2 linked regions of the Homo sapiens genome follow. The protein of the gene in region 1 interacts with the protein of each later gene in a pairwise test. Each region holds a gene or a part of one and is shown on either strand. Other genes may lie near its edges. The genes, in order: PRC1 and PKIA.

The links.
Region 2: the proteins of PRC1 (region 1) and PKIA interact in binary tests that used the Homo sapiens proteins (3 or more experiments, as listed by UniProt).

The regions. Positions count from the first base shown.
Region 1 is NC_000015.10:90,965,463-90,970,748, reverse strand, and holds the end of PRC1 (protein regulator of cytokinesis 1), read left to right. Parts: intron 1-234; coding exon 235-345; intron 346-1,125; coding exon 1,126-1,302; intron 1,303-1,628; coding exon 1,629-1,670; intron 1,671-3,546; coding exon 3,547-3,618; 3' UTR 3,619-4,095; coding exon of another isoform or gene 4,096-4,170; 3' UTR 4,171-4,709; downstream 4,710-5,286. UniProt on the Homo sapiens protein: Key regulator of cytokinesis that cross-links antiparrallel microtubules at an average distance of 35 nM. Essential for controlling the spatiotemporal formation of the midzone and successful cytokinesis.
Region 2 is NC_000008.11:78,511,959-78,519,625, forward strand, and holds the start of PKIA (cAMP-dependent protein kinase inhibitor alpha), read left to right. Parts: upstream 1-4,381; 5' UTR 4,382-4,510; intron 4,511-7,667. UniProt on the Homo sapiens protein: Extremely potent competitive inhibitor of cAMP-dependent protein kinase activity, this protein interacts with the catalytic subunit of the enzyme after the cAMP-induced dissociation of its regulatory chains.

The sequences.
Region 1 (5,286 bases):
CCACAGTGGTTGTACCATTGTACACTTCCATTTGCTGGATAGCAATAGGCTTTGAAAATTTTTCACAAGTTACTTCAAATCTATGCAGTATTAGACACAGCAGGCCCTTCACCATGTAAACCCGTCTTCCCTAGACTGCCTCCTCCCATAGTCATTTCTCTGTAGGGTAGACAGGTTGCTAGAAATGCTGAGGATGTTACTGCACATCAGTTACCCACGTGCTCTTCTCCCTAGCTGAACACTACCACCATGTCCAATGCTACGGCCAATAGTAGCATTCGGCCTATCTTTGGAGGGACAGTCTACCACTCCCCCGTGTCTCGACTTCCTCCTTCTGGCAGCAAGGTTAGTATGCCCTGTGTCTAAGCACATCCTCACATGCGTCCCTAGCCTGTTCACCCAGAGGCCCCACCTACTTGTTCTAGATTCTAAGATCCCTGGATTTGGTTCTTATTGAGATGCTGAGAGTTGACAGATATAAGCTAGCTCACCATTAAATAATGGTCCAAAACTAACGTGCAAAAAAAGAGAACAGTCACTCTGAGCCCCACTGGTACCATGGGAAGCACTGGGATGTGTCTGGGAAACTGAAGATCAGGCAGGGTCGCTGTAGACTCAATTCCAAGCCCAGTCCTCAGCTGGTATGGAGATAGGTCCCCTACATGTGGGTTCTAGCCCAGTGAAACCAGATCACTAGACATGCCAGGTACTCAGTAGAGATGTGGAAAGTATGTGGCAAAACACATTCAGTCTTTCAAATATTTTATTAGACTATGCTCAAGATAGGTGTTCTGTAAATCAAGAATTCATATTTAAAAAAAATTTTTTTCTAGAGACAGTGTTTTGCTATGTTGCCCAGGCTGGTCTCGAACATGTCGCCTCAAGCAATCCTCCTGCCTTGGCCTCCCAAAGTGTTGGGATTATAGGCATGAGCCACACCCAGCCCCATATATATATATATATATATATATATATATATATATATGTTTTTTTTTTAACTAAAAAGTATAGGATTATAGACATGAATATAAAGATAGTCTCAGCCTTTGACCAGTGCAGGTATTGTGTGTGCGTGTGCACGTTCATTAGAAGGATGATACATGGATCTCTTTCCTTTCTCTGCAGCCAGTCGCTGCTTCCACCTGTTCAGGGAAGAAAACACCCCGTACTGGCAGGCATGGAGCCAACAAGGAGAACCTGGAGCTCAACGGCAGCATCCTGAGTGGTGGGTACCCTGGCTCGGCCCCCCTCCAGCGCAACTTCAGCATTAATTCTGTTGCCAGCACCTATTCTGAGTTTGCGGTAATTCACCTTTTCTAATATCTACCAGTCTCTGGGGAGCACACAGTTGGGGCAGAGTGGGTATCTTCCCAGGGGCACCCAGGCTATTAGCTAGGGCAGCTACCTTGGAGGCTGAGAATCCCTTTCCTGCTTTGACCATGGCAGGGTGGGTGTGATTTAAGGGGGGGTTGTGTAGGAAGGAAGTTGGCAGCAGCAACTAGACATTTAACCTGGATCCTTCTGCTTAATACATACCATTCCCTGGCTGCAGGAGGCAACCCCTCTATCACTGTCCTGGTGCTCTCTTGGTGGAGTTCTTGGTAATTGTCTTAATTCTTTGTTCTTAGAAGGATCCGTCCCTCTCTGACAGTTCCACTGTTGGGCTTCAGGTCTGTATGGCAATCCCTGCATGTCCCTTTTCCAAACTGATCTGTCATCTGCTGGCTTCATTCATCTGGGCACAGGGCTACACTAACTAATAATCTCAGCAGTGTTACAAAGGAAGCAGGAATTCCTATCATGGACTCAAAAAAACACATCTGATTTACATTCACAACAGATTAATTAATAAAATTTGTTCAGACTTGAATTGGATTCTCAGCCCCTAAAGTCAGGCACAGTTTTAAATCACGTTTAACAGAAAACCTTGACCCTCCCCAATTGTGACATCAAAGGCCTGCAATAGCTGGAAAGAATAGAGGCCCCCAATCACATGGGGAAGGGAGCCCCAGCTGTGTGCTGCCTACAATGAGGCTCTTGGCCTGTGTGCTGATTATTTCCTGGAGTATATGCCTTCCTAACCCCTCAGGGCTTAACCGCCAGCTCTATTCTCAGCTAGCTAATGCTGATTTCCTCACCTTTGCCTCTTTCCATACATTGAGCTACTGAAGCATAGATGAAGCACTGGAAGCAAGTTTTTCCAGAATGCTCTTCACTTCCTAGTATCCTACTCTATATTTGCTAACACCTAACTACACTGCCTTTTACTTAATCTGTGATTTCTTCTCTCAATATTTTACTAGCAAGAGGAGAGGATGTTCCTCACCCTTGAGGGGATATTGAGTTAAACCCCTAGCCTGCCTCCCCTCTTAATTGCTGCAGGGATAGAGAATGGAACAGTTGGCCAAGGCTGCAGCTAGTTTTGATCACTGAAACTGGCTTCCTACTCCAGCATGTTTTTCAAATTACGTGGCTGGTGGTGCTTCTACCTTTAAAAGTGGGTGTGTGTCACTCTGGCTGATTGCTGGACAGAGGTCCAGCTTTCTCTTTTTCGCTTGTTCAACCAAGGCCCATTTTATCTGAGGCTTAAATGTACCTGCCTATCTGTGTGGCTAGTCCTAGGTAGGTTCGTCTGGTTTGGGTTGCTATGGCTGATAGACTCCACCAGGCAGCACCAAAGCCGGTAAACTAACCTCTGCTAATATCTGTCTTTCTCAATAGCCATTCATGCTTTATCTTTTGCTGCTCTACCATGTGCTCCAGCATGAGATCAAATCACCAGCAGGTTACAAGGCCTCAGCCCCAGGGATTGGTAGATATATGTTCTGGCCCATTGTTTTATAAAGGGCTCAAGAGACCAAAGCTTGTTGCCTACTTACCTTGACAACTCTAAAGTAGCTCTGTGAAGTAGAGTCATGCCTCGCTTAATGACAGGGATATGTTCTGAGAATGTGGGGCAATTTCATTGTGCACATATCAGAGTGTACTTAACAGTCCTAGACAGAACAGCCTACACACCTAAACTATATGGTATGGCGTTTTCCTCCTAGGCTACAAACCTGGGCAGCATGTTACAGAAAGAATACTGTAGGCAATTGTGGGTTTTTTTGATTCAGGCTATTCCTGGGATACTGTAGGCAATTGTAACGCAATGGTAAGTATTTGTGTATCTAAACATAGAAAAGGTACAGTAAAAATATGGTATAATCTTATGGGACCACCATAGTGTATGTGGCCTGTCGTTAACTGAAACATCATTATGCAGTGCATGACTGTATGAAGGATTTCTCTTCTGTGAGGTGTAACAGAATGGACTGGCTGAGGAAAAAGGGGTCACGGGCATGCGTGCACATGCACTCTGTCTGTGACTAATAGAATGGTGCTCAGAGTTCCTCACCTTTTACTCCTAACGCAGCCTATTGCAGGCTAGGGATCTCAGAGAAACTACCTTCAAGGGACCTTTTGCTGACACTTAACCAAACTTAGAAGGGTGGGCCATGTGTAAGAGAGGCAGTATGGCCACTGATGTTATTTATTTTTCAACAGCGAGAACTTTCAAAGGCTTCCAAATCTGATGCTACTTCTGGAATCCTCAATTCAACCAACATCCAGTCCTGAGAAGCCCTGATCAGTCAACCAGCTGTGGCTTCCTGTGCCTAGACTGGACCTAATTATATGGGGGTGACTTTAGTTTTTCTTCAGCTTAGGCGTGCTTGAAACCTTGGCCAGGTTCCATGACCATGGGCCTAACTTAAAGATGTGAATGAGTGTTACAGTTGAAAGCCCATCATAGGTTTAGTGGTCCTAGGAGACTTGGTTTTGACTTATATACATGAAAAGTTTATGGCAAGAAGTGCAAATTTTAGCATATGGGGCCTGACTTCTCTACCACATAATTCTACTTGCTGAAGCATGATCAAAGCTTGTTTTATTTCACCACTGTAGGAAAATGATTGACTATGCCCATCCCTGGGGGTAATTTTGGCATGTATACCTGTAACTAGTAATTAACATCTTTTTTGTTTAGGCATGTTCAATTAATGCTGTAGCTATCATAGCTTTGCTCTTACCTGAAGCCTTGTCCCCACCACACAGGACAGCCTTCCTCCTGAAGAGAATGTCTTTGTGTGTCCGAAGTTGAGATGGCCTGCCCTACTGCCAAAGAGGTGACAGGAAGGCTGGGAGCAGCTTTGTTAAATTGTGTTCAGTTCTGTTACACAGTGCATTGCCCTTTGTTGGGGGTATGCATGTATGAACACACATGCTTGTCGGAACGCTTTCTCGGCGTTTGTCCCTTGGCTCTCATCTCCCCCATTCCTGTGCCTACTTTGCCTGAGTTCTTCTACCCCCGCAGTTGCCAGCCACATTGGGAGTCTGTTTGTTCCAATGGGTTGAGCTGTCTTTGTCGTGGAGATCTGGAACTTTGCACATGTCACTACTGGGGAGGTGTTCCTGCTCTAGCTTCCACGATGAGGCGCCCTCTTTACCTATCCTCTCAATCACTACTCTTCTTGAAGCACTATTATTTATTCTTCCGCTGTCTGCCTGCAGCAGTACTACTGTCAACATAGTGTAAATGGTTCTCAAAAGCTTACCAGTGTGGACTTGGTGTTAGCCACGCTGTTTACTCATACAGTACGTGTCCTGTTTTTAAAATATACAATTATTCTTAAAAATAAATTAAAATCTGTATACTTACATTTCAAAAAGATATAGTGTGGTGTTTCCTTTTTTTCCCCAGTCACTTTTTAGTTGGTTGGTCTGTGTGTGAAAAACAAACACAAAAAACTAAAAGGACCTCCTGGAAATTTTTAGTCAGGAGTGTGATTTTTTTTTTTGAGTCTCACTCTGTCGCCCAGGCTGGAGTACAGTGGCACTATCTTGGTTCAGTGCAACTTCCACCTCCCAGGTTCAAGCGATTCTCCTGCCTCAGCCTCCCGATTTGCTGGGATTACAGGCACGCACCATCACACCTGGCTAATTTTTGTATTTTTAGTAGAGACAGGCTTTCACCATGTTGGCCAGGCTGGTCTTGAACTCCTGACCTCAGATGATCTGCCTGCCTCCCAAAGTGCTGGGATGACAGGCATGAGCCACAGCACCCGGCCGAGTGTGATTTTTAAAATATTCTCTGGTACATTTCTAAATTAAGAATATCTCTTACTCTAATTTTTTGGTGAGAAATATAAAACCTAACCCCTGATGTGTAGAGAGCAAAGGGAGTCCTAGGATGCTTCTGGCTTCAATGCCGTTTGTCTCAATATGGGGAGGCTGCCCAACTTCAAC
Region 2 (7,667 bases), on another chromosome or scaffold:
ATGTCTTTGACTGTTGTCTTTAACACCATCAACACACTGATTCCTTTCCATGAATAAAAAGTACCTGATAAGAATACTTTGATAGATGAATGTATCTATATTATCACAAGAAACTATCTTCAGTGAGTCTGGCTTCGCAGATGGAAACTACACTGGGGGGTCAAGAAAACATGTTCTGGGACTGTCCCAAGTCGCCACAGTTGCATCCCTACTGCCTCAGGCAACTTGAAGGAAAAGATCAAACATCTTTCACTCTTGAGACAATTGTTGTCTTCATCTCAGAAACAAGACAAAGTCAGGCTGTGAGTGGTGGGGATCCAAGCCCAAGTCTGTTCAACTACAAAATCTCTAACCTTCACAGTCATCTCAACCTTCTGGTTCTCTTCACCTTCTCATCCTCCTGCCTCTTTACTTTATAAGGACTTTTATCTTCAGCATGAGATACCTAGCAAATCCTTCAACTAAATGATAAATTATGAAGGCTGAACATGTTCTCTCATTCAAGGTATTTAGAACTTGCAAAGGAGAAAGGGGACAGAAGCCTGCCCAAGTATGCAAGGATAACACTGACAGAGTATCAGCTCCCTGAAGCTCTGGAGTGGCAATTTCATGCCATCTCATTATAGCCTCACAGTAACAGTCTACAGTTTGTATTCTAAGTTTTGCCATGGCTCCCTTTGACAATCTGAAGCAACCTACATAACTCTTCTTAAAATGATGCTTTTCAATGCATAAAATATAATACGTAGAATTGGAAAGGAAACTACGAAGTTTAAAATACTGTTATCAAAATATTTAAAAACAAAATTCATGATATACAAAGGTATGGGCATTTAAACTCATTAAACACAGTATAGGAGAGTTATATATATTTACTTAAAAATTGTGATATTGTGGGAAAGGGTTAACAATTTTTATACTGCTTTACATGTACACTGAAATTGAACAATTATAACAGTGAATGATGGGAGCCATGATTCTCACTATTGGAATAGGAATTTACAGACAAGCAAAGGGAGGAGGCTAGAATGATCTATGTGTTAAAGGATTAAAGTTGGAAACATAAGTATGTGCTCATATTTAGCTTAATACAGACACAGAATGGTCACATATAGAAATACTTATGTATATATGCATGGGTAAGTATACACATATATTTCTTCACTGTCTTAGTTGAAAGGCCTAAACAAAATGACCTGCCAATAATGACTGTGTCTGGGACCCAGATCTTGATTTGTATTACCATTCTCCCATAAAAGGAACAAGGGCTCCATGAAGAAATGGCTGATTCTTGGAATGAAGAAGGAAGTATACAAGTTGAGACTGGAGGAACTTATAATACCATAAAGTAAGGGATTGTTAACAGCCCTGCTGCTCCTGCCATACACACACACACGCACACTCACACATCAAAGGGGGTATGTCAAAGGAGCACAGGAACCTACTGAAAGAGCTTCCAATGGGCAAAACTGGAACAAATTGAACAACAAAATAAAGTAGTAATTGATTATTACCAAAGGCATAAAATATAATACATCTCCATAAGTCTATAATATTGATATCAATAAGTAATTGAATACTTGGTAGAGAATAGACAGCTCTCCTGTACAGAATTCCATATACTTTATGTACACACTCTGCCCTCAGGGAGGTAGAGCCAAAGTCCCACTCCTTAGGTTTGGGTTTCATGTAGTTACTTCCTACAAGTACAGTATGGAAGGGATGGGCAATAACGTTACAGTAGAGAAACCTGACAAACACTGCCTCAGCCAGACAATCAAGGTCAACACATCACCAGTCATAAATCACATCGGTACTATAGCACCTTGATATGATGTGAGGAAAAGGGACTTTACCTCTTTCTTTCTCCTGCCAATAGTTCGCAACTCCAGTCTTATCATAAGAAAAGCATCAGACAAATTGCAACAGTGAGGCCTTCCAGCAAATACTTGACCACTACTCCTCAAAACTGTCAAGGTCATCAAAAACAAGAAAAACTATCACAGCTAAGAGGAGCTTAAGGGGACATGACAACTAAATTTAGTGTGGTATCCTGGATGGATGCCTGGAACAGATTTAAGGATATTAGGTAAAAACCAGGGAAACTTAAATGTAGTTAGACTTTATTTATAGTTAGTAATAATGTATCAGTATACATTCATTGATTGTAACCCAATGATATGGTTCAGATTTGTGTCCCTACCCAAATCTCATGTCAAATTGTAATCCCCAATTTTGGAGGAGGGGCCTAGTGGGAGGTGACTTGATCATGGGGGAGGACTTCCCCCTTGGCTTTCTGGTGGTAGTGAGTTCTCATGACATCTGGTTGTTTAAAAGTGTGTAGCACCTCCCCCTTCTCTTTCTCCTGCTCCAGCCATGTAGGCCCTGCCTGCTTCCCCTTTGCCTTCCACCATGATTATAGGTTTCCTGAGACCTCCCCAATCATGCTTCCTGTACAGCCTACAGAACCACCAGCCCTTCTTTATAAATTACCCAATCTCAGGTAGTTCTTTATAGCAATGCCAGAATTACACCAAGGTACCTTACTATTGTATGATGTCAATAGGAGACACTGGGAATGGGATATATGGGAACACCCTGTATTATTTCTTCAATTTTTCTGGACACCAAAGCTGAAAAATATAGTCTATTAAATAAAAAAAGTAGTGATGATTTGATTATAACATCAGTGTAGTGATAGAGATATCTATAAAAACAGCAATAAGGAATTAGCTGTTGTTTCTATTGGAAACAAAGTCCCAGGTACTCCTAACATTCTTGTGGTTTGTTGCCTACATTATGTTTAAAGGACATGCTAAATGCTAAATTTCAGTTAGAAGTTAGTGAAACTAAAAATGAGATTTTTCCCATTATACTTAATCTGTATAAAAGGAGTATATGAATAGAATTCCATTTATACAGATTAAGAATCTCCTGCTCTATGGTAATATTAACGGGCTAATGTTATGAAAGTGAGTCTCAGAGCGATGAATTAAGCTGTTCTAGCTTTCAAAGAGCATATATTCTATGACCAAGAATTCTAACTAAGTTTTGTTGGAAAGCTGTTGGCTACATTATCACCTAACTTTGGGACTGATAGATGGATGGAAACATCTCATTTAGCAAAGGTGCTTCCCTGGCCTTGTGCAATTGCACTGTTTAGGTTGCTGGACAAATCCATAGTGTAAAGCTGGCCTGTATCAAGTGACGGTCAATTCAAACAGCAAGGCAAGTTAAAAGAGGGAACTCCATTCCACAGAACCCTAGTGTCAAGGAACCTCCCGACTGGAAAATGACTCAACAGCTAGGCGGAAACCCTGGCTCAGCTACAAAGAGAGCAAATTTAGTCCCATTTTTCCTTAAACATTCAACCCTCAAACCTGAAGAGATTTGGGAAAGAAGCAAAACGGGAGGGTGGGGGAGAGAGAACAGTCTTGTTAACAGCTAGTGTTAATTTAAAAAGAGAAGGAAAGGGCTTATATGAATACATGCTTATTTCATTCCCAAAGCAAATTTTCATAAATCCTTAGGGAAAGAGAGATAGTCATTTGCTAATGTAGACTCTGCTTTTTGATTCCCAAATGTTACAGCTGTCACCACAACAGTTTGCCCAATTATGTGGCAGGGAGGGGAGGGGGTCCAGAGCAAAGGAAGTAGGAGGAAGAGATGTTAGAGGGAACATCTGTGCACAAGTGCACCATAAACACAACAAAATCATGGGGCCACCCCACTGTTTCTTTGAGCGCTTTCTCTGGTTGGCCCCACTTCTCCAGTCTTTTAGGAGATTCCCGTTCTATTACGTAGGTGAGAGGGCGAAAGGTTCTAGCTTTCAAAATTGTGAGTGGTTTGGCTGTGTGCATACGTGTGTGTGCGCGCGTGTGTGCGTGTGTGTGTGTGTTTGCGTGTGTGTCTGTTGGCGGGGGCGGGGGTGATGGAGAGAGCTATGAAGGGCTTAGAAAGCTTCATTACCAATTTAAAATGTTTTTGTAGTGCTTGAATGTTTATCTTAAAAGACAATTCCTGCTCTCAAATTCAGCCAAATGAACAATGCTGATAAGGAAGATGAAGAGGGTGGGAAACCCACAGGGGCAAATGGAACAGTCCATGCAGCCGGGGTGACGGGGGAGCGCTCGGAGGAAGGACGCTATGCAGAGAAAGCCCCCCTGGCTCTTCTCTCTCAATCCATAATCCAGCGATGCTGCAGCTGTAAAAGCATTAATAGAAAATCAATCCACAACCTCGCGGGGCAGCGATCGTCGAGCGCCGTTTCCAGGCTGCCTTCCCTGGGGTCGGGAGCGGCCCCGCTCCCCCCGTGGCTGGCGCGGAATGTGGTGATCCGTCCCGGGGCGGGGATGACTTCATGCAGCCGGAGCTCCGCGGCGGGAGCGGAGGCTGCTGCTGGCAGGTGGGGCGCGGGCCGGCGCGAGCTGACCGAGCACTCGGCGGGCGCGGCGGGACTGCGGCCCGTGGCGGCGTGCGCGGGGACCTGCGCTGACTAGGTCCGGGGAAGGTAAGCAGCCCGGCACCGGTGCGCCCTGGCCGCACTGCGTGGAGCTTTCCGCTTGGTTAATAATGGGGTTTGCAGCACGGAGGGAAGAAGGGGAGAACCCCGCTGCATTCTGCAATGAGAAAAGGAGCAACAACTAGGATGGAAATGTTGGGCGGCCAAGTGCAGAGGTTGGAGGAGCAGTGTTACTGGGCAAACAAAGAAGGCGTTCTTGCCTCTATACTCTTTTGAACGTGATCTACCATTTCAGTGCCAGATTCGCGTAGACAGTGAAGAGGACTCAAAATTTAAAATAATTTGAGTTACTCTTTTGCTTTCTGTGCCTTTTACCTTCGCTTGAGTATTTTGAGGATTTGGAGCAGTAGGTCCCTGGCAGCAGCCTGAGGTAATCAGAAATCGTCCCTCTTCCTGTAGTCCTTGGTCCTCTCCCTTTCCAGTTATCAGAATGGGTCTGTGCCCCTCTCAATGGCAAAACACCTGCTTCAAGACTGAACCTTTAGAAAGAGCCTCTATCTGGAGGGGAAACTTCTCTTATCTCCTGGAGTTCAGCTTGGGTTGAGCAGCACTTGACATCGCTTCTTCCTTCAATTGCCATTTTCTCTGTCAATCATTTCATTGATCTTTTTCGGAGATGCTGTGCCCATTCACAGACCAACTCTCGTCAGCTCTTATCCACCACCTGGGTTCCATGACTGATTTTGTCAAGGTCCCAAAAAGGGCATTGCCTCACACAGATTTCTTATTCGGTATTCTCCCTGTATACTGTTACCTGTGTCCTTCCCCCAAATGCATGGAATGAAATATCCTGCTTGTGGCCCTGTACCAACATGTTATCCCATTAACTCCCTTCGCTGTAGTCACTGTGGCTACTTGAAAGCTAGAGAGGACAGATAGAATCTACTGGAGTGTGAGGGATGTTCCCTATGCATAGGCATAGGTAGAAGTAAAAATGTGAATGCCAGTCCATCCAGTTTTTCTTGAAGCAATTTTAGTCCAGTTGGATTTTGAGACAGCTAGCTGTTAAGATTTGGGACAAATCCTTTCCAAAAGGCAGAGGAGTCCGTTTGCCTCTAGGATTCCTCAAGAACCTCAAAAGAGTTTCCAGTGAGGTTTTCCTCGTAGGCAGTCAGAAAGCCAATGGAGCTGCCCAATCTAAGCCTCTGGTTGAGTATCCTCTAGTTTGTCTTGCCATTTGCAGGTTCCTATCCCTCGTCCTAGGATTTTCCCCACAGACCCCTTGCTACTGAGCCCAAGTGCCTATCCTTGTTGCCACCTAGAGATGTACATTTGAATAATATGCTGTGAAATGGTTAAGATGGCTGTTATGGGGATTGCAAACGTGCCACTTCACCAACAGAGAACAGTTGCAATAAGCCAGATTGTGGGGTATCTGTGTGCCAATGTTCTATTTAAAGGAAGATCTGTTATCTTTAAACTTAAAATTACAGAGACTGTCTGACTCAACAGCCATGCAATTTTATTTTAGTAAATTAAATTAGAAGATCAATGAAAAAGAGGGGCAGAGTTGGTAGCTTAAAATTTTACCTCTTTCTTTCCTCTTCAAATATTATTTTTAAGCAAAGACACTAGTATGGAAAATCGTGTTAATCATATTATATATCATTATTGCCTTTCTATTACAAATTTCGTTTTTACAAAATGCACTTTAGAAAGATTTGAATTTGTTTCTTTGTCTCCATCTTCAGTATATGAGGCATAGGGTGAGGGTGTAGGGGGTGGGCAAAGCCCACTACTGAGTGATCCACTCCAGGAACTGCCCCTTGGGGTCTTAATAACCTTATGTTCCTTTTTTGTTGTTGTTATTATGTGTTAAACAGGGTTTTGGTTTGAAATATTAACTTCTTGAGATTCTAGAATTTTTACTCAGTCACATTAACTATGAGGTAACAAAGAACAAGATCAACAACAAACCCTGTATTCTACCACCTTTTTTCTACTATTAAAATACTTAACCATATACATCATTATTCTGAATAATACTAATATAGAATAATAATGAATTTTAATATAGTTATTCTAAATAACCTAAGGTATATGAAATACAGATTAGTACAATTGATCTTAGAAATACAATGCAGTTTCTGTAATGTTGACAGTCACCTTTCTGTTGAAGAGCAAGTGCGTGAGAATATCCTAATGATGGTTAGAAATTCGAAGTGTCTATCATTTAGTTTCTGAAGAAACTAAACTCTTTGGCAAGAAATAGGTTCAGGATTAGGAGACTGGTGCTGCCTAAGGTGGAATAATACTTGCTAGTGATTTTGCAGGTGAGTTGAACCCACTAAGTTATGGACTGGAGTTGGAGAAATCTTGTTGAGAAGAAAGAAAACAAGTTAGAAAATTTAATTTTCATTTTAGTACAACTGAGGAAGATAATCAAACTGAAGGGATTCCTGAATTTGGACTTTGTTGTGTTTAAACAAGTTTGAGGAAAGTTTCTAAATTTAGAAGGCTAAGCAGAAATATATGTATGATTTTATGTCTGAAACTGATTTATGACTTTATATCCTTTCCTTAAAATGTTTCCTAGGGAGAGGAAAAACTAATTGGCTGGTGTTCAGAATTGAAAGAGGAATGAAAAATGGAAGGACGTGCATGATTAGATGCTAAATGATTAGATACTAAATGAACTGCAGGCACTTTTGTGTTTGACAAGATAGAACTGAAGTCAGTCTACTGCTCTCCAATTGTGTAAAAAAAAAAAAAAAAGTTTTGTCTGCTAGACAGTGTTACCAGATATTTAGAGAGTAAAAATTTAGGAGTTAAAGTTGCCCTCTTCTAACAAAATATCTTTTTCTGGTGCTGCATTACTGCCATTAACTACAATTGAAATAGCCTTAAGATTTGAGGCTGAGGCAGGAGGATTGCTTGAGCCCAGGAGTCTGAGGCTGCAGTGAGCCATGATGGCACCACTGTACTTCAACCAGGGCAACAGAATGAAACCCTGTCTCAAATTAAAAAATAAAAACTTTTTTAAAAGTTCAGAAATGTTGAAATGGAAAAGGAAAAAGAATAGCAATAATAAGGCTCAAATAGAAATGTCATTTCTATTCAACCAGTGACTCCACTGAGAATGGGTAGAAAAAAGTGCTATTTTGAAAGTTGCCAATGACCTCTTAATTGCCAGATTTCTATAATA